3 separate regions of the Homo sapiens genome follow, and regions 1 and 2 are each linked to region 3. Evidence: fine-mapped expression QTL. A gene starts in region 3. Each other region holds a variant in brackets. All regions are shown on one strand. Distances are from middle to middle.

Region 1 (7,198 bases), 85 kb after region 3:
CACCATGTTGGCTAGGCTGGTCTCAAACTCCTGACCTCAGGTGCTCCACCTGCCTCGGCCTCCCAAAGTGCTGGGATTACAGGCATGATCCACCGTGCCTGGCCATGAAGTCTCTCTTAAGACCTTTTATTGTGTGGGGCAGGGGGTTGTTTAAAATACATCCAGTGGGAATGGCAAATTGTGCCCTCTTTTCAAAGTTTGTTTTTCCTCCATCATCTATATTTGAGTTGTTCTGTGTGAATAAGTTTTGGAATGCTTCCTCCTTCTTGTTGACCACAGTGGTTGTTGACATAGACAGAGGTTGTTGGGATAGGAAGAGATCCCTGAGGTTGTCTTGTGGACAACAAAGACCCACGATAACTTTTCTTCCCATATAAGCATGGGCTATCCTAGAGCCCAGTCCCCTGTGGGATATGACCAACAATTATCTTAGAAAATTTCACTCAATCGGCTGGGCATGGTGGCTCACGCCTGTAGTCCCAGCACTTTGAGAGGCTGAGGCGGGCGGATCACCTGAGGTCAGGAATTCCAGACCAGCCTGGCCAACATGGTAAAACCCTGTCTCCACTAAAAATACAAAAAAGTAGCCAGGCATGGTGGCAGGTGCCTGAAATCCCAGCTATTAGGGTGGCTGAAGCAAGAGAATCACTTGAACCTGGGAGGCGGAGGTTCTAGTGAGTCAAGATCGCACCATTGCACTCCAGCTTGGGCAACAAGAGTGACACTCCATCTCAGAAAAAGAAAACTTCACTCAATCATTTCACTTCTACCTCTCCCAGTCCTCTTTGGAGCGTGAGGACACTTGTAAGGCAGTCTGTGGGGACAGTAACTTATAGGTTGTGTCCTGTCCGGTAGTGGGCTTTCATCAGAAGTATGCTTTTGGTCACACTACACCATTTTTTTATACCACCATAGAGTTGACAAACAGCATTCACCCATTTCATTTTGCTTTACTACTCCGATGTGGAGAAAAAAAAAATCTAAGGATTACATTTCTCTTGCAGATTTTTTAGATCAATAGCTATTATTTAAATACAGGGAATCCTGAAAGTCTAAGACTAAAAAATTTGGGTTCCTTTTGTATATGTTAAATTCTCCCATATACACATGGGTCTGTAAATAAAAATAAATAGGTGGCCCCTACCCTTGCAGTTGCATAGAGAAACTAGACCCTGAAATAAAATGGAACAACATTGGAGGATTTTTGTTTAGTGGATTAAAAATTCAATAATACTTGAAAACTTTGTCCAGCTCTTCAACAGAGATATTTGGATGAGTTTTCTGGCTTTTCTAATCAGGAAAGGCTTGTTGGAGAATTAAAGGAGATATGATTGAGGAAATAAAACACAATACAAGATTTTTCTGGATTTATTATGAATAAAAAGGGACCCCAGAGGATTAAGTGGATGTAGTTTGCAGTTGAGGTTAAGTGGTCATGGCAGTTTACCGTGGACATTGTTTAACTGATGGAAAACTCCAAAAGACTGACCAAGGAATTGAAGTAGACCAATTTGGACCAATAACTTGGAGCTCAGAATTAACCACTGTATTTCTCTATTCCAAATACCCATTCCTCTTCCCTGGAACCTCAGGCTGGCCACACAAACTTTCTTGAAAATTCTTGGGGTTCTGCCTTTACAGGAAGGCCATTTGCCTCACTCATCAGAAGTATTAGAGGTTTATTCTGCACAACCATGAAGAGGTTAAAGAGAAGGGTAGGGAGGCCATGAGGGTTCTTACATTCCATCTTGAGTCAACCATCTCCTGTTACCCTCTGAAAAGTGGCAGAATTTGTCCCAGACTTTTTTTTGTTGCACTTCATATCTACTATGGAATTACATTTATAGCTAATGCATTAACTCTAAAAATGGAGAAACCCATTGCTCTGCTGTTTTCATGGTAAGGAAAAACTGCTGAGTCATGATTGACATGGGCTGTTTCAAGAGTTTCCACGGAATGAAGGTAAACGCTTAGGATATCGCAGCCTGAGTGAGAGGCACTGCAAAGTGTGGCCGCTACTTGAAGTTCTTCATGGTGAGTGGAGAGGGAATCCTGAGCGCATCCTGGATTAGAAAAAAAAAAGAAGAAAGGTGGCCTGAAATATGATCTGAGTATATCTGGAAATACGCAGACATCTAGTACTTCACTTGCAGCACTCTGTGAACCAGAAGGCCAATTTCTACATGCTACAAGCTGCACTTCAAGATGCACCCAAAATGCATGCTCGGGAAGTTGTTTTTTGTTTTTGTTTTGTTTTGTTTCTGAGACAGACTCTCCCTCTGTCGCCCAGCCAGGAGTACAGTGGCGTAATCTTGGCTGGCTGCAACCTCTGCCTCCTGGGTTCAAGCAGTTATTTTGCCTCAGCCTCCCGAGTAGCTGGGATTATAGGCATGTGCCACCATGCCCGGCTAATTTTGTTGTTGTTGTTGTTTGTTTTGTTTGTTTTTGTTTTTAGTAGAGACAGGATTTCACCACATTGGCCAGCCTGGTCTTGAACTCCTGACCTCAAGTGATCTGCCAGCGTCGGCCTCCCAAAGTGCTGGGATTACAGGCGTGAGCCACCGCGCCTGGCTGGGAAGTCTTTTTTAATGGCAATAACCAAATGAACTCTCTTGACCTTGCTGCCTCTGCAGGCACTGCCCCGCCCCGGCCCTTCCACTCTAGAGGAAAGCACCTGGCATTTAGCATCTTTACACACAGGAAACAACAGATATGCTCAGGGACTTTTCCTCTAGCTTGTAACCAGGGATGGCTGTTGGGCTTGGCAGCCGTCAGGCTGAGAGTGACTCAGCTTAAAAGGTTTCATTGTTGATATCTGCCCTGAGCATTCCCCTTTGGACTTGGAGTTCCAGGATGTCTTGTGTCTGTGCTTCAGCATCTGAAGCCCCTTGTTGCCTGTTCTTAAGGTAGACTGCATTATCAACGGTGTCTTAAATTAATAGCTTCTCTCTACTGACTATTCACTTGTCACAGCTGACATGAAGGTTCTCAGTCCTGAGTGCCTATTAATGAAGCTCACAGATAGAGTGCAGAAACCCTTTGCAAGATCTGTTTTGCCAGCTTGCTGGTGTCCTGGCATGAAGGTCTCCGACCGACGTCTTTGAAATAGTTCCTGGCCGGGTGCGGTGGCTCACGCCTGGAATCCCAGCACTTTGGGAGGCCAAGGCGGGCGGATCACGAGGTCAGGAGATGGAGACCATCCTGGCTAAGACGGGGAAACACCGTCTCTAATAAAAATAGAAAAAATAGCCGGGCGTGGTGGCAGGCGCCTGTAGTCCCAGCTACTGGGGAGGCTGAGGCGAATGGCATGAACCTGGGAGGCGGAGCTTGCAGTG[A/G]GCCGAGATAGCGCCACTGCACTCCAGCCTGGGTGACAGAGCGAGACTCCGTCTCAAAAAAAAAAAAAAAAAAAAAAAAAAGAAATAGTTCCTTTCCACGTGGAGTGGACTGGCCACCTTGGGGCTCTACATTTGCCTGCTTGGTTCAGGCAGTTCTGTCCCATTTCATGTACATTTCACTCTTTTCCCCTACTAGCTTCTCACAGTTTAAATTATCGATGTGATTGCCTACCCAGACATCTAATTCTTTCAACAGGTAGTGGTTTACAGACTCCAGTTTCTTTATGATCATCAAGACAGGGATTGAACAACTGGCACCTTCCCTGTCTGTCCATTGAGGGGCATGTGTTTGATGTGTGTGGATGCTACTTTCATTAGGCAAGTTAATGGCAGTTAGCTACGTTCACACTGAGGAGGAAATAGACCACCGTGTATGCATTTAGTAAACACCAGCGTAGTCAGTGGATCTGTTTCCTTAACAGAACATGGTTCTGCTCCACTGTACACTTCAACCAACTGCTTCAGAGCAAGCTTTTTCCTTAGAAAAGTTTTCATTTAATTAGGATTTAGAAAGGAACGTGGAAACTTTAAGATCTCCATTTAGTCTTCTGCATACTTCAGAGACTTCTGATGTCTCCTACAGGGACAGGAAAGGAGTCAGGGGTCTGAAACTCTAGGACCTGAAAGGCAAGTGCAATTCGGTCACTGTCCACATTGCCAGGGTGTCAAATCACACATACCCTGCCTGAAAGTCTGGGAATTGGAGAATTTAAAATGACAATATTTTCTACTGTGGAATACCTTGCATTCTCCCACTCTGTAAACTACTATTCTGGAGGCGGCCCCTCTCACTATATTTCAAAACCAGATGCTTTTCTCTGGAAATACTAGAAATGTCTCTCTTCTGGGCTGACCTAAAACCAACATAGTATTGGGCATTGAAGTAAGGAGAAATATGGTCAGTGAGGCTAAGACCTCCTCTTCTGAGAATGAAAAATGACTGAGTATTTTGTGTTAGGTGGGACACTATTTGTTAATAGAGAACTTATATCTTAAGTCTCTTAAAATAATTATAGCATCTCTTAGTTATTTCCAGCATAATCCAGGAGTGAGCATTCCAAGAACATCATCTTACAACTTTTAATTAATATATCTTTCTCTAACCCTTAAAGAAATGCTGGTAACTGCTTGTCAGATGAGGAAAAGATGGATCATTATTCAAGTAAGATCCAATATGGGAAACTCAGATATAAATAGTTCAGCATTTTCGTTTCTTATCAAAGATTTATGACTGTGTCTACTTTAGGATTTATTTCTTCTGGACTATTTCAGGAGCCCCTTCACTGGTCTTTCAGCCTCAATTTCCTTTCCTCCGCCCCTTTGTTTGTTTCTCCCACTGCTCTGAGGACAGTTGTCATAAAGCTCAGTTCTAGACTTCTTGATTTGTGTCCCGGGTGCTTCCCCAGTTGTTCTCAGGCCAATTTCTCAGGCCCCTGTTTCACCATTTTATCCACACCTCCAACAGGCATTCCCTCCTGGTGGAACTTCTCCCTCTTCATCTGAGGGTGAAGGGTCTCTTTGTTGACACTGGTCCCTCTGCCGGGCATCCTCTCCCTTCTATACCTCCCTATTGCTACCAATCCTTCCTTCACTAAGAAATCAACCTAAATGCCACCTTCTTCATCCCAGACATGCTACCACTCCTGAGCCAGGAGTAATTAATTCTTTGACCTGTTGTATCGCTCTTATGGCACATGGCTCTTCTGTTTGATTTGGAAAAACGTATATCTCCTTATGCAAATTGTAAGTTCTTTGAAGGCAGGGTCCATGTTTAATTATTTTATTCTTTAATGTGCCTTAGTACTTAAAATGTCCTCTGCTGGCCAGCAGTAAGGGTGTCACCTGTGAGCTTGCTCAAAAAGCAGACTGTCAGCCCCCATCTCAGATATGTGGGATCAGAATTCACATTTTTTTTCTTTTTTCTTTTTGGAGACAGGGGCCCACTCTGTTGCCCAGGCTGGAGTGCAGTGGCACAATCATTGCTCACTGCAGCCTTGACCTCCTGGGCTCAAGCGATCTTCTCCCCTCAGCCTCCTGAATAGTTGGCCTTACAGGTGCACATCATCAAACCCAGTTAATTTTTAAGTTTTTTTGTAGAGAGGTGTCTCCATGTTGCCAAGGCTGGTTGGTCTCAAACTCCTGGCCTCTCAAGCAGTCCTCCCGCCTAGGCTTTCCAAAGTGCTGGAATTACAGGAGTGAATCACTATGCCCGGCCAGGATCCACATTTTAACAAGGGGTCTCCAGGTGATTCCAATGCAGCTGAGTTGGGAGTTCTGGCTTTGTACATTGCACAGAACCTTGTATAAAGCAGAGACTCCCTGGATAGCTATTGAACAACTAATGAATAAATCACATTAAAAGCTGAGTTTCTTCTCATTGACTTAGAGGGAGGTTACCTCATAATTACTCAAACATAGAAAACGTAACCCAACATGTACCATTTTCCTATGACCATTTTGAGTCTTAAAAACGTGGAAACCCTTTTCTTCTTTTAAAATCTTGGATTTGTTATTTCAGATCACCTTTGATAGTTTTTCTTTCTTTCATTTTTTGTGTACCCTCACTGGGTAGTGTTTGGCCTTCGCGAAGAAGGATAGAGAGAAAGCTTGCTAATTGGGGCTAAATACAGATTATGTGCAAAAAAAGAAATTGCTAGCATCTAAAAATAAGCACTCTACACGTGTATAGTTTTATAATCTTATCAGCTGTGATCTTCAGGACCAAGTACGTGGCAACTACAGGAGGATGGTCTCTGTCGCTGTCAAAAGCTGAGTATTCCAACTCTCACTTACTTGATACCAACCACAGAAGGACATGAGACTGTAATACACTGGGATTTTCAAAATGCAAAAGAATTTGATATTAAAGGCTTGTTAGCTGTCTAGGAATAAAACAAGAATGGGGAGAAACATATAAAGTAAGGAAGATTATCTCTCTACAGCTAAAACCAGGCAAAAGGACCACCCACTATGGCATATTGTGAAAATTTTGGGGGCTACTTTTGTTTGTCACAATAATTGGAGCAGTTGGTTGAAGGGTACAATGCAGCAGGGCCATGTTCTGTTAAGGAAACAGATCCACTGACTACATTTGTGTTTAATAATTGCATGCTTAGTGGTCTGTTTCTCCTCAGTGTGACGTAAGTAACTACCATGAGTTTGCCTAATGGAAGTAGCATCCACACACATCCAGCACATGCCCCTTGATGGACAGACAGGGAAGGTGCCAGTTGCTCAGTCCCCATCTCAATGATCATAAAGAAACTGGAGTCTTTAGACTGGGTGCAGTGTCTCATGCCTGTAATCCCAGCACTTTGGGAGGCCAAGGCAGGCGGATCACCTGAGGTCAGGTCAGGAGTTCAAGATCATACTGGCCAAGATGGTAAAACCCCATCTCTACTAAAAATATAAAAATTAGCTGGGTGTAGTGGCCCATGCCTGTAATCCAAGCTACTCAGGAGGCTGAGGCAGGAGAATCACTTGAAGCTGGGAGGTGGAGGTTGCAGTGAGCTGAGATCATGCCACTGCATTCCAGCCTGGGCAACAGAACAAGACTCTGTCTCAAAAAATAAAAAATTTAAAAATTTAAAGAAAGAAACTGGAGTCTTTAAATGACTGCCTGTTAAAAGAAGCAGATGTCTGAGTAGACAATCACATCAAGGATTTTAACTGAGAGAAGCTAGTAGGGGAACAAAGTGAAAGGTACATGAAATAGGACAAAGGCCAGGGATACTAGATACCTTGCAAGGCATAGGATAGTCTCATACTGTGAAGAATTGTCACTTGAGGCCGTGACTTTAGAA
Region 2 (7,198 bases), 350 kb before region 3:
ATTAGTCTTGCTAGCAGTCTATCAATTTTGTTGATCCTTTCAAAAAACCAGCTCCTGGATTCATTAATTTTTTGAAGGATTTTTGTGTCTCTATTTCCTTCAGTTCTGCTCTGATTTTAGTTATTTCTTGCCTTCTGCTAGCTTTTGAATGTGTTTGCTCTTGCTTTTCTAGTTCTTTTAATTGTGATGTTAGGGTGTCAATTTTGGATCTTTCCTGCTTTCTCTTGTGGGCATTTAGTGCTATAAGTTTCCCTCTACATGCTGCTTTGAATGTGTCCCAGAGATTCTGATATGTTGTGTCTTTGTTCTCGTTGGTTTCAAAGAACATCTATATGTCTGCCTTCATATCATTATGTACCCAGTAGTCATTCAGGAGCAGGTTGTTCAGTTTCCATGTAGTTGAGTGGTTTTGAGTGAGTTTCTTAATCCTAAGTTCTAGTTTGATTGCACTGTGGTCTGAGAGACAGTTTGTTATAATTTCTGTTCTTTTACATTTTCTGAGGAGTGCTTTACTTCCAACTATGTGGTCAATTTTGGAGTAGGTGTGGTGTGGTGCTGAAAAAAATGTATATTCTGTTGATGTGGGGTGGAGAGTTCTGTAGATGTCTATTAGATCCGCTTGGTGCAGAGCTGAGTTCAATTCCTGGGTATCCTTGTTAACTTTCTGTCTCGTTGATCTGTCTAATTTTGACAGTGGGGTGTTAAAGTCTCCCATTATTATCGTGTGGGAGTCTAAGTCTCTTTGTAGTTCACTCAGGACTTGCTTTATGAATCTGAGTGCTCTTGTATTGGGTGCATATATATTTAGGATAGTTAGCTCTTCTTGTTGAATTGGTCCCTTTACCATTATGTAATGGCCTTCTTTGTCTCTTTTGATCTTTGTTGGTTTAAAGTCTGTTTTATCAGAGTCTAGGATTGCAACCCCTGCCTTTTTTTGTTTTCCATTTGCTTGGTAGATCTTCCTCCATCCTTTTATTTTGAGCCTATGTGTGTCTCTGCACATGAGATAGGTTTCCTGAATACAGCACACTGATGGGTCTTGACTCTTTGTCCAATTTGCCAGTCTGTGTCTTTTAATTGGAGCATTTAGTCCATTTACATTTAAAGTTAATATTGTTATGTGTGAATTTGATCCTGTCATTATGATGTTAGCTGGTTATTTTGCTCGTTAGTTGATGCAGTTTCTTCCTAGCCTCGATGGTCTTTACAATTTGGCATGATTTCACAGTGGCTGGTACCGGTTGTTCCTTTCCATGTTTAGTGTTTCCTTCAGGAGCTCTTTTAGGGCAGGCCTGTTGGTGACAAAATCTCTCAGCATTTGCTTGTCTGTAAAGTATTTTATTTCTTCTTTACTTATGAAGCTTAGTTTGGGTGGATATGAAATTCTGGGTTGAAAATTCTTTTCTTTAAGAATGTTGAATATTGGCCCCTACTCTCTTCTGGCTTGTAGAGTTTCTGCTGAGAGATCCGCTGTTAGTCTGATGGGATTCCCTTTGTGGGTAACCCGACCTTTCTGTCTGGCTGCCCTTAACATTTTTTCCTTCATTTCAACTTTGGTGAATCTGACAATTATGTGTCTTGGGGTTGCTCTTCTCGAGGAGTATCTTTGCGGCATTCTCTGTATTTCCTGAATCTGAATGTTGGCCTGCCTTGCTAGATTGGGGAAGTTCTGGATAATATCCTGCAGAGTGTTTTCCAACTTGGTTCCATTCTCCCCGTCACTTTCAGGTACACCAATCAGACGTAGATTTCGTCTTTTCATGTAGTCCCATATTTCTTGGAGGCTTTGTTTGTTTCTTTTTATTCTTTTTTCTCTAAACTTTCCTTCTCGCTTCATTTCATTCATTTCATCTTCCATCACTGATACCCTTTCTTCCAGTTGATCGCATCGGCTCCTGAGGCTTCTGCATTCTTCATGTAGTTCTCAAGCCTTGGCTTTCGGCTCCATCAGCTCCTTTAAGCACTTCTCTGATTGGTTATTCTAGTTATACATTTGTCTAAATTTTTTTCAAAGTTTTTAACTTCTTTGCCTTTGGTTTGAATTTTCTCCTGTAGCTCGGAGTAGTTTGATCGTCTGAAGCATTCTTCTCTCAACTCGTGAAAGTCATTCTCCGTCCAGCTTTGTTCTGTTGCTGGTAAGGAACTGCGTTCCTTTGGAGGAGGAGAGGCACTCTGCTTTTTAGAGTTTCCAGTTTTTCTGCTCTGTTTTTTCCCCATCTATGTGGTTTTATCTGCTTTTGGTCTTTGATGATGGTGATGTACAGATGGGTTTTTGGTGCGGATGTCCTTTCTGTTTGTTAGTTTTCCTTCTAACAGACAGGACCCTCAGCTGCAGGTCTGTTGGAGTTTGCTAGAGGTCCACTCCAGACCCTGTTTGCCTGGGTATCAGCAGCAGTGGCTGCAGAACAGCGGATTTTCGTGAACCGCGAATGCTGCTGTCTGATCGTTCCTCTGGAAGTTTTGTCTCAGAAGAGTACCCGTCTGTGTGAGGTGTCAGTCTGCCCCTACTGGAGGGTGCCTCCCAGTTAGGCTGCTCGGGGGTCAGGGGTCAGGGACCCACTTGAGGAGGCAGTCTGCCGGTTCTCAGATCTCCAGCTGCGTGCTGGGAGAACCACTGCTCTCTTCAAAGCTGTCAGGGACATTTAAGTCTGCAGAGGTTACTGCTGTCTTTTTGTTTGTCTGTGACCTGTGCCCAGAGGTGGAGCCTACAGAGGCAGGCAGGCCTCCTTGAGCTGTGGTGGGCACCACCCAGTTCGAGCTTCCCCACTGCTTTGTTTACCTAAGCAAACCTGGGCAATGGCAGGCGCCCCTCCCCCAGCCTCGCTGCTGCCTTGCAGTTTGATCTCAGACTGCTGTGCTAGCAATCAGCGAGATTCTGTGGGCGTAGGACACTGCCAGCCATGTGCGGGATATAATCTCCTGGTGCGCCTTTTTTTAAGCCCATCGGAAAAGCGCAGTATTAGGGTGGGAGTGACCCGATTTTCCAGGTGCTGTCTGTCACCCCTTTCTTTGACTAGGAAAGGGAACTCCCTGACCCCTTGCGCTTCCCAAGTGAGGCAATGCCTCGCCCTGCTTTGGCTCGCACATGGTGC[G/A]CTGCACCCACTGTCCTGCACCCACTGTCTGGCACTCCCTAGTGAGATGAACCCGGTACCTCAGATGGAAATGCAGAAATCACCCGTCTTCTGTGTCGCTCAGGCTGGGAGCTGTAGACTGGAGCTGTTCCTATTCGGCCATCTTGGCGCTCTCTCAGGGATTACAATTTTATATGAAATTTGGGTAGGGATGTGAATCCAAACCATATCACTCCCCATACGATACTGACTTGAGATAGACTTCAGGGGTCAGAACATCTTATTCCTCAGACTATGAGGGATTTTTTTGTCACCTCTTCTGAGCATCTTTTCAAATAGTGCTGATAAGTTCACTTTGTTCATTAGAGAGAAAAAGGACAGGACGAAATAGGAGACCATAAATAGGAAGGAATGAGAATAAAATGGTCAATTAAGGAAAGGATTTTCTGAAAGCAGGCCCTGTCATTAATAATGATGATCTCTAGCTGTAATTAAAACACCTTTGTAAATGTATTCATGCCCTTGTGCCTCAGAGGTGAGGTCTTCAAGCCTGTCTCTATATCACAATCATCTGGAGAATGACAGGTCCATGTTAAAGGTATTAAATCAGAAGGTCTAGGGTCGGGGCCCAGGAATTTGCATTTTATAATAAACGGTTTGCACGCTTTTGATGCATAGCTAGTTAGGAAACCACATTGCCTCTAAGAATTTCTGTGAGTGGAGTGACATCTCTCAACCTTTAGAGGAGTGGGGAATCTTTTCTTGAGAACTTTACAAAGAATCAGCTATAATATATTAGAAGGAGATAGCTATTTAGATTTATGGATGAATGTATGTTCATATATATGTATGTATTTATAGAGGAAACTATAGATATGGTTGAAATTCCTTCTAATTTAATAGTTAGAAACAGTGAAAATGCCATTTTATTAAGTTATATGTCAAAAACATTTAAATATTTCAATCTGGTTAAAAAAAAAAAAGAGGGGTGGGCCAGAGACTTCAAGTAGGAGACAGCAGCTGGGAGACAGGCCAAGAGGATCAGATATGGAAGGGGAGGAAGAACAAAGTTGTGCTACTTGGTAATTTCTCTAGAATACAGCAGGAAAGAGGGCCAGGAAAGGACAACTGTGACCACTCAAGAAACGGGAGCCAAGGCCGGATCTTCTTTCCTTGGCTCTTCTCTGGGCTCTGACTTAATCCTGCCAGGTCTCAGTTTCTTCTCCTGAAAAATGAGCTGGATGGGGAAGAGCAGTGATTTTCAATTTAGCCTGAGAATGTGCCTTGCTGTGTCATCATTTCAGCATAGTCGTGAGGAACCCAGCATGATGACAGTTGTAATTTTAGTGTTCACTGATTTAAAAATTGATGATACCTAAAGAACTATAAACTTAGAACTTTTTAAAATTATATTTCCTTTTATTCACCACAACAGCATATATATATGCTGTATATATATATATACACACAAACATATGTGTGTGTGTATATACATACATATAAATATACACACACATCTTTAGAGCAGTTGTATACACATGTCTATAGCAGATATCAGTATCATTGCTTGAATTCTTGCTTTTTGAAAAAAACAACTTGAATCTGACTCTGAATATCATAAAAATGATTCTGTTAGTATAATCATAAGTCTAATTTCAGTCATAATCGGGCTCCCCATCAGTCCTAGGATCCCTCCAGTCTTCAACCCTCACTGATTGCCACTGAAATACTCATTGTCCCCCACCACTCGGTCCTTTTACAGTTGCCTCATCTGCTGGTTCTCTGGGCGTGGTGCCCTTTCAAGTCTAAAAGACCTGGTTGTAGGTGTCACCTGCCAAGACTTAAGAGACATAGTAGAAAACTCTCCATCTTATGATTCTATTGCTCTTCCAGTCTACTGTACAATCTCAAAATCGTCCTTACTTAGATATAAAGCTACCACTTCTCTTTCCTCCCTCGTAACTTAATTTCTCCAAGGGGTTTAGAGTTTCAGAAGATAAAATGCAGGAAGAAATTTAAACTTATTCTAAGCCAGTGGAGCACAAAGACCCTGACTACCGTCTTGGAAAGGAGAAACACAAATGATTTCAATATACTATAATTCCACATGTAATGTGTGTGTGAACCCATATATGTATATGTCTTTGTATATGTGTGGGTGTATACATATGTATATGTATAACATGTGAAACTTGTTACATTTATAGATTGGTGGTTTCTTTGTTATGGACCTAAAGCCTGTGGATTGGGAACCTCTGGACTACACAGTCTCTAAGATCCTTTCCAGCCTTAATATTAAGTGCTTCTGGGATCTCTTTGCCCTTTGGCATTGACTTTGATTGAGAATTGCTGCAACCTACAACTTCCAACAATAGGCACTAAACTCTCTATATGTAATGATAATGGTAACTTGAATGGAATTGTCATTGTTGATTGGTTGATTTATTTTCTAATCTAGGTTGAAATAAAAATATATTTGGTGTCATATTTTGCAAAATAATGGCACAACCTTCTACTAATCACATGTCTTGAAGCATTCCTTGCTCTAGGGACACCCAAGGGATTACCACTATCTACAATAGTCAGACTATGGCTGTAGTGACATATGGGATTCATCCACATGTAAACAGTTGTTCTTCAATATTTCACATTTAAATACGAACTTTGTTACTTTTGGCCATGGCATGTTGCAAAGGTTTCTACACAAAGAATAAATCAATGTGTACTTTAGAAAAGGTCATATGCTTTTAGCAAAATTTCTAAGTATAGAAACTTACAACATTTTTAGAGATGAGTTTATTAGCCTCATTAAAGTGTCACTGTGTTTAGACTCAAATGTCTAAAATGACTTTGCTGTGATCCCTCTTTTTTTTTTTTCTTGGCAGCCAATACAAAAAACAATTACTCAGAGTCACAGACCTGTAAGACTTGCCTTTTGGTATTAGAATATCATGTAGACTTTCAAAGGTGTATGCACTCCTTGTCATATGCTCATTTGAGTAATGGCATTTGCAGCAACAATGCTGACATAGTCACTTGTCTATGTATAGGAGGGCTGAGAGCGAGCAGGAATATTGATGTGCCCAAGCTAGTCCTGCCCCTCGTACGTTCTGATTTCCATGGCCTCCTCTTCAGAGCAGGGAGCAGCTACAGGATTGGGCCTCATGAGCAGCTCTGGGCAGGGCTCTCCTTGCCTTCTTGTGCTGGTCTTTGTGACTTTATCTTCCTTAATGCAGCTGAGGTAAATGCACATTTTTTTTTTTATCTTGACGCTAAACTCTAACTGACCTTAATGGCAAAATCTTTACAAATTTATACCTCTGGTTTCCTAGGTGATAATTTAACGTCATTACTCCTTGCTTCTAACCTACTTGGAAACTATTCCATTTCACTTTGGTCTTCTGTGTAGTATGATTTCCATTATGTAACTCCCATCAGAGCTGACAAGATTCCCTTGCCCCATGTAAAAGGTATATAATTTAATGACAATATTATACATTGTAATGAAATGTTTACATGTCAGAACATATATTTTAAAATAAATAGGTTAAAAAACAGACTTTGGAGTTAGGAATTGTTATTCTAACTCATTTCTTTCTTCCTTTATGTGTAAACAATTCAGATATGCAGTTTTAAAAAAGCAAATACATTACTACTACATTAATAATAAAGGAATTGTTGTAGAGATAATCATAAAGATGATGTTAACTGTTATTAAGGTTTGCTTTTAACCTGCTATGGGCAACATAAAAGTCATGAAACATTAAATTTTTTAAAAATGTTCTTGTGTATTTTTTTTTCTGGGAAAGTGCTCTCCATTCCTGTGTTATACAGAGATCCTGACTCTTTATTTTTCTTTTTTTCTATTTTGTTTTCTCATCTTTTCTCCTCTCTTTTTCTTTCCTTCTTTTGTTTTCTTTCTTTTATTTTTTTCTTTTCTTTTTTTGAGATGGAATCTTGCTCTGTTACCCAGGCTGGAGTGCAGTGGGGGGTCATAATTCACTGCAGCCTCCACCTCCTGAGCTCCAGCGAACCTACCACCTAAGCCTCCTGAGTAATTGGAACTACAAGCACACACCACCGTGACTGGCTAATTTTTGTATTTTTTGTAGAGACGGAGTTTCACC
Region 3 (7,198 bases):
TCCCAGCACTTTGGGAGCCCGAGGCAGGCAGATCACAAAGTCAGGAGATCGAGACCATTCTGACTAACACGGTGAAACCCCATCTCTACTAAAAATACAAAAAGTTAGCTGGGCGTGGTGGCATGTGCCTGTAGTCCCAGCTACTTGGGAGGCTGAGGCAGGAGAATCACCTGAACCCAGAAGGTGGAGGTTGCAGTGAGCCGAGATCATGCCACTGCACTCCAGCCTGGGTGACAGAGCAAGATGCTGTCTCAAAAAAAAAAAGGAAAGAAGGAAAAAAGGAAAAATTTACATGAAGGAAGTTGACATGCTTTCCACAACCCTATAATTGGCCTGCTGAGAAATCATATGCAATTGTTTACGATTTTTGTGATTAATTCTCTTTATGGTGAATGCCATTTACGTTGCGTTATCAACACCAATAATGGTCCAGTTCTGTAACGGGTTAGCTATGACTGCAAAATCACCATTTGTCTTTACAGCACTCTTTTATCTCGTCACTTGTCTTTCCTTTTAAATGACATTTGTTTTATGTGGTAGCTCATTTTGAGTCATGAATTGCAACATATGGAACCACTAACCAAGAAATAGTCTTGCACCTTTCCCTGTTAACAGAAACGGAGTTGAAAACTTAGCCTCCTGGTATTATTATTATTCTAGTTCTTTATATGACTGGAGGAAAATCAGATTTCAAGTTCTTCCCGCTTTCCTTATGCCTTTCACAGCAAATTTCAAAGTATAGCAGTAGGCAGATTGCAATGTAATAGCAATTTTTAAGCCCAGAAATTAAATTAAACCAGAAAGAAATACACCTACTTCTAGTTCAAATAGTGTTTCTTCCAGAAAGAAGAACATCTCCACAGTAACAGCAGTGACAATAAGAGTATTTTCATGAAGATCGGAGTTACCAGGTTTATATAGATTGCAGAATACAGCTACTGTTTTCCAGAGACACTGACAATCAGTGCTAAATTGTTAGGAAGGTCTCTGTGCTTTGGAGAAAGATATGGAATAGTCGGTGCAAGGGCAAATAGAGTGCCTTCTCAAATTGTTTTCAGTTCCTCTTCTTAAGGAGGAACAAAAGGCCAGTAAGTAATCCAATAGAAGCTTTTCCCTATAGAATGGTCAGAAAGTTTGATCATTCAAAAGAACATTATTTTACCATAAATACATGTCTAGGTTTCATGATCCTTAATGATTCATGTTAATTCTCTTCCCCCAATGCCTTTTTCTGTTGTGCATATCACAGAGTTTTGTTTCCTGGAATATCAGCAGAGAGGGCAGTGGGCTTGGCCCGTATGGGGGAGGGGAGGGTCCTAGCAGCTGGAAAGCAAGGTCGGCTGACCAAGGGGGTTCCTTGGGCTGCCTGGAAAATGGTAGTTCAGACCTGGTGGGAGACATTTCCCTATTTTTGTCCATCTAGGGGTCAACAGAGGCCTGAAAGACTGCTCTGACACCTTCCAAACAGCCCCCAGGAAATCTTAATCAGCATCTGCCAATGGATCTTTTCTGCCTGGGTTGAGCTAGCCAGGAGGGCCCTGGGGCAGGGTGCTGTTTGTGGCTGCCAACGGCTGTGGCAGCCCTCTGCTGCCTCCTTCATCCTGGGGTTTTTGCCTTTGTGCTACACCAAATGACAGGTAGGAGCTGTTAAGCACGGGCTCTCTGGACACCAGAGCAAGGGGATTGGGGTCACAACCAAAGGCTGCGGGACATCTGATTTGGGCTGCTGCATCTCCTGCTACAGTGTTTCTCTCTCTCTCTCTCACACACACACACACACACACACACACACACACATACTTTTCTCCCACCCTCCTCCCCACTCTTCCTAGCATTAATACTTTAAAGACAAATACACAACAGTATACAAGAATCAGGATGATCTGGACCTGAAAGGCTGAACACAGCAGGGCCCTCCTTCATGAACATTTTGCACCTAAGGAAATAATAAGGTTAAAACTAGATTCATCTGGCCTTTGCCCAGGGGCCACCAGGACAGAAACTGTGTAAGATTAGTTCCTCCTTAAAGCAAGATTGCCAGGTAATTCTGTTGCAAAGTCATAGAGACCTTAAGTTATCTGCCCTGCAAATCCCACTGCCTCTATTCAGGCTGCCGAGGCACTGCTTTAATTTTTTGAAAGATTCACCGCGTCTTCTTGGATTTCAAGAAAAATCCCGTTAAGAATTGAGGGGCTCTCTTCTTCCCCTCCTGACGTGAGTGTAACTCACTTCCTGGTATGTCTCCTTTCCTTTTGGCCTACATCCTTTGTCTGTTAGGTGCTTCCACATCCTTATGTCTTAAATGGCCAAAATACGTCACCCCCACTGCCAAAACACACAGGTCACTCGAGGTCACAATCTGGAACATAGGCTGGCCATTGTTCAGCACACATTCTTGATCTAAATCAATCTCAAACCTTGCTGGAATGCCCTGTAAACTGGGGCAAAGTATGGTCACCAGACTAACCATTGTCCTTTTTTACCCCTCCTGTGACGGGGCTACTACAGGTTACAAAATCGCGCTCTTCCTCCTAGCTACTGTGTTACTCTGAGATATCTGACATCGCAGAGCTAATGTTGCCTAAATTATTTTCCCATCCTCTTTTTTTTTTTTTTTTCGGACATCATGCCTCCTATTTTCACTCTCTGGGAACTCTGCCAGTTTTTCAAGGACTGGGTAAAGAACAAAATAAATATTTGTAGGTGGTTTAAAAGGAGAAGTATGTTGGTTGTAACTCTGCCTGTCCAAAGAAATGCATTTTCACTGTCTTTCAGATTTTTGGAGTCGTTAACTGGGAGAGCTTCAGAAGATTGACTTTACTAGTTTACCTTTCAGATTTGTGATTAAGGGCTGGGTGTGTGTGTGTGTGTGTGTGTGTGTGTAAGTGTGTTGGGGGAGGGAGGAGTCTGAGAAAGTGAGCAAGTACGTAGAAACTTTTTTTTAAAAAGTCCAGATTAAGTGATTGAAATCGACTGTGTGCAAATGACGCTATACCTCTTCATAGATGTTAATCGGGCCCTAAAAAGTTAGTGCCGGAAAGTGCTTACTTACAACACTCAGCATATACTCTTTCTTTCAAATTGTTTGGGATTTTTTTTTAAGGGAGTTCACTGAAATTTGGGAGGTTCAACAGGTTGCTGTTTTTTAATATGTGGATCACCCGATTTGGGAGGCTCACTCTGCCTCTGAGATTAAAGAGATGAGGGCACTGGCTCCCAGCGAAGGCTCTCGGCCTTAATCATGTGTGAAATGTTTTCCTTCCTCGGCTGCAGAGCCTCGGTGGTTTGCAGCAGTGGAACCAGGCAGGCCCAGTTGTGGGTAGGAGAGGCCGTCACCTGTTGAGGCCTCCCCCCCACACCCCCGCATCGCCCTGCCCTGGCAGAGCCCAGCCCCCAGTCCCCGGAGAGCGCGCCTGAGGACGGACGGACGGACGGACGGACAGACCTAGGGACGGAGGGCCAGGGGCAGGGGAGATCCAAGAGGCCCCGCGCTGGAATGCAGTTTTCTCGGGCGAGGGAGACTTTGCACCGGAGTGGAAAATAGTTTGGGGTGGGGTTTCGCACCGTCCCCTCCTCCCCAGCCCCGGGCCCCCTCCCAGGCGCTTTCTGGGAGCTTTTAGAACTGCGCTCTGAAGTTTCCAGAGAGCGAGGAGCTTTTGCGGCAGGCAGAGACAATGGAAGAAAATGAAAGCCAGAAATGTGAGCCGTGCCTTCCTTACTCAGCAGACAGAAGACAGATGCAGGGTAAGTAACAGACCCATTCAAAGATGGAGTTACAGGGACGCGTGCCCCTTGCCGCTTGCTGCTTTTTATAAACTGCAGCTCTGGGACCCGGCAAAGGAAAAAAAAAAAAAAGGCAATTTCTTGGGATGGTACATTTTCCAAACTGAGTAGAGCATAGAGAACTGTGATTTCTTAGGCTTGACTTTATCTCTGGCACGATTTTCTTAAGCAGCAAAAGAGGTGGTGGGGTGATGTCACATTTGTAGTGCAGTGAGCCATCAGCATGAGCTGTATCTCTAAGCAATGACAAATAAATCACTAAGCAGCTTTTAATCATTTCCCCCCGGGGCTCCAGCCACGGGAGAAAGGAGCTGTTTTTGTGAAACTGTCTCTAGGACCGCAGCTTCCATTCATTGGTTGGGGGATTCCATGTGGCAGATGCATGCTGGCTGCAAAGTTTGTGCAGAATTTTAGAGTTAAATCACAGAAACCAGGCATGTTTTATTTTACAGATCCGAGCAGCAGGGGAGGGCTTGAGCATCTGGGTGATAGATAGAACTCTGGATCTTCTTTTATGTTTTAATTCAAAACTTGGGAGTTGTTGGACAATTTTGGTAAATTTTCTCCAGGCAGTTTCCCTTTAATTGTGTTTATAATAGACTTGTCTTTTCCGTAGGGAATTTCCAGAAGCTTATGTTGTTCCAAAGAAATTTCGCACCGGGTTGGGTGGCCAGAGGAGGTCCCTGCTCTCTGGCATCTGATGCCTGTGATGCCAAGAGCTGATTCTGTGGGATCCTATAGGCAGCATGTTCATAAACCACACAGCCCTGGACCACCCGCCCCACCCTCCCTCAGGTTCATGCAGGGGCCAGTACACAACAAAAAGACGTGCGGGAGTGCAGTGCTGTGCGTGGGAGTAGGGATTATGCACAGGGGAAAAGGTGTGTGTTTTATGAAAATGTGAAAGGGAAGTAACACATGACTCATCCACGCTGAAAATGCAAAGCTAAGCCAGTCAGGAGAACTTACAATGACAAGAGATAGAAATCCCCCAGTGAAATGCAGAAAACTTGAAGTTTTGTAATGGCTGGAGAATCCCTGAGTCTGAACAGTCATCTGTCGAAGTGTCTGCCTTCGTGCTGCCAAAGCACAGCACTCTCCTTCAGGCTACCGGGGTCAGTGGCATCCAGTGGAAGATAAGGCTACCTCGTCCCCCTGACCCCCGCAACCCCCCACCCCCATTTTCTAGGACAGGATCCTACTTCAGGAATTCAACCTCTGGGCCTGTCCTGAAAGAGATGACTCAGATTCTAGAGGGGCCATTAGAAAGGGATCCATTTAAGAAATGACTTTCCAACAATCAGGGCAATTCAGAGGCTTCAGAGGCTAGGATGGTCAGCCTGAGACAGTGTGCTCCTTTGCTCACTAATTCATTCATTCAGTGAATATTGAGCATCTGTTATGTAGACGTCACTGTTTTAGCTGCCAGACATCCAGTGGTGAACAAAGCAGACTAAAAATACTTGCCTTCATTTAACTTCCAGTGTAAGGACCAAGTTTCAGGGGGTGGGGAGCTGGTAGAGACAGACAATGAACAAATAAATAAAATATATAGCATGTTAGATGGCACGGCTGCTGGATTTAGCAAATAAAAATACAGGAGGCCCAGCTAAATTTGAATTTCAGGTAAACGGTGAATTTTTTTTTTTTTAGTATAAGTATATCCCATGCCATATTTGGGATATACTTATGTTAAAAATACTTCTCCATTATTTATGTAAAGTGCACATTTAACTGAGCAGTCCTGTATCTTATCTGGCAACCCTATTTGATGGAAATAAGGTTACAGAGAAAAATAAAGCAGGAAAAGGAATAAGGAGTGAAACTGTAAATAGGATTATTAGAAAGAGCTTCGCTGAAGTGATATTTGAACAAAGACAGGAGAGGTAACAGCAGGGATGTAATGTTTTCAAAGAACAGCAAGAACATGGGAGAAGGATGGGAGGAAAAGAGATTGAGAGGTAATCCCAGGCCAGATCACCTAGGGCCCATGAAACCATTGTAAGGACTAGAGCTTTTATTTTGAAAGAGGTGGGAATCTCCTGGCAGGTGGGACTACTTTTTTTTTTTTTTTTTTTTTTTTTTTTTAGAGAGGGTCTCATTTGTCACCCAGACTGGAGTGCAGTGGTGTGATCATAGCTCACTGCAGCCTTGAACTCTTGGGCTCAAGCAATCCTCTGGCCTTAGCTTCCAAATAGCTGGGACTACTGGGACATGCCACCATGCATGGTTGTATTGTATTGTATTGTATTGTATTGTATTGTATTGTATTGTATTGTATTGTATTGTATTTTATTTTATTTTAGAGAAGGGGTCTTGCTATGTTGCCCAGGTGAGTTACAAAGGGATTTGTCTTTTTAAATGGGGTAATACTGGGTGCTGTATTGAGCACAATCCAAGTAGGGTTGAGGGAAGGGCAGGGAGGCCTTTAGGAAGCTTCTGCAGTCAAGGAGGCAAGAACCAGGGCTAGCTTGGACCAGGCGGTGATTAGCAGGCGGTGATAAGCCAGCAGATTCTAGGTGTATATTGAAGGTAATGCCCAAAGCATTTCCTGTAGCCTGGGCAGCATAGTGAGACCCCATCTCTAGAAAAAAAAATTTAGCTAGGCATAGTGCCCTGTAGTCCCAGCTACTTGGGAGGCTGAGGCAGGAGGATCACTTCAGCCAGGAGGTTGAGACTGCAGTTAGCCATGATTACACCACTGCACTCTAGCCTGGGTAACAGTGTAAGATTCTGAAAGAAAGAGAGAGAGAAAGACAGAGAGAAAGAGAAGGAAGGAAAAAGAAAAAAGAAAAAAAAAGAAGAGAGAGGAGGGGAGGAGAGGAGAGGAAAAAAGAAAAGACAAACAAGACAAGACAAAAGCAATTGCTAAAGGATTCAACTTGGGATGTAAGAGAAAAAGAGGAGTCAGAGACAACTTCCAAAATTTTGGTGTAAGCTGCTGGGAGAACGGAGTTGCCATTTGCCTAAGTTGGGGAGTATTTACGAAGAACAGATGAGAGGGTGTTTATGGTTTGAGGTTCTGAGGAGCAATCTTTTGATAGATTAGGATTGAGAAGTTTATCAGGTATCCAAGTGGAGATGTTGACTACAATTTGGATATTAATCACTAGAGCTGAAGGAAGACTGAGAACTGAGAGATCCCCTAAGATTGAATCTGTGTGCAGAAGAAAAAGTCCAAAGGATGCCCCCCGAGGCAGTCCAGCATCTAGAGGTCAGGGAGATTGGAAGGAAGGGCTGGAAAAAATAGCAAAAGTGGAATAAAAATCCAAATTAGATTTTTAAAATCCTGTTCAGTTCTGGGTGAATATGATGCTGTAGAGAAGCATGGCTTCATTTTTAGTTCTCCCGGTGAGCACGAGTGCCGCAAGGGAGAGCAACATCTCTGATGCTAACATCACCCATAACGTTCATT

Direction of the effects. Positions count from the first base shown, and alleles are read on the strand shown. Sizes are in standard deviations (SD) of each study's normalised expression.
For the expression in aorta of the gene that starts at base 3,619 in region 3, A is the low allele of the variant in region 1 and G is the other (small effect, 0.27 SD a copy in GTEx).
For the expression in T cells of the gene that starts at base 3,619 in region 3, G is the low allele of the variant in region 2 and A is the other (moderate effect, 0.49 SD a copy in GENCORD).

What was found. PIP is the estimated chance that this variant, and not a neighbour inherited with it, causes the effect. A credible set is the group of variants that fine-mapping cannot tell apart.
Region 1: its variant is the best candidate, but not a certain one, in a credible set for the expression of KIAA1217 in aorta (GTEx, PIP 0.73).
Region 2: its variant is the best candidate, but not a certain one, in a credible set for the expression of KIAA1217 in T cells (GENCORD, PIP 0.53).

The regions. Positions count from the first base shown.
Region 1 is chr10:24,290,798-24,297,995 of GRCh38, forward strand. The region is part of intron 2 of KIAA1217; the gene reads left to right. Among named protein-coding and RNA genes, the nearest start is that of MIR603, 19 kb to the left of the region's middle. RefSeq lists an enhancer at 1,575-2,774. The variant A/G (reference allele first, on the strand shown) is at 3,336.
Region 2 is chr10:23,853,915-23,861,112 of GRCh38, forward strand. It overlaps a transcript of KIAA1217 not described here. Among named protein-coding and RNA genes, the nearest start is that of KIAA1217, 350 kb to the right of the region's middle. The variant G/A (reference allele first, on the strand shown) is at 3,093.
Region 3 is chr10:24,205,520-24,212,717 of GRCh38, forward strand. KIAA1217 reads left to right here and starts at 3,619. Exons shown (of 21, transcript NM_019590.5): 1 at 3,619-3,744. The coding sequence starts at 3,675. RefSeq lists enhancers at 3,805-5,004, 4,378-4,437 and a silencer at 4,038-4,087.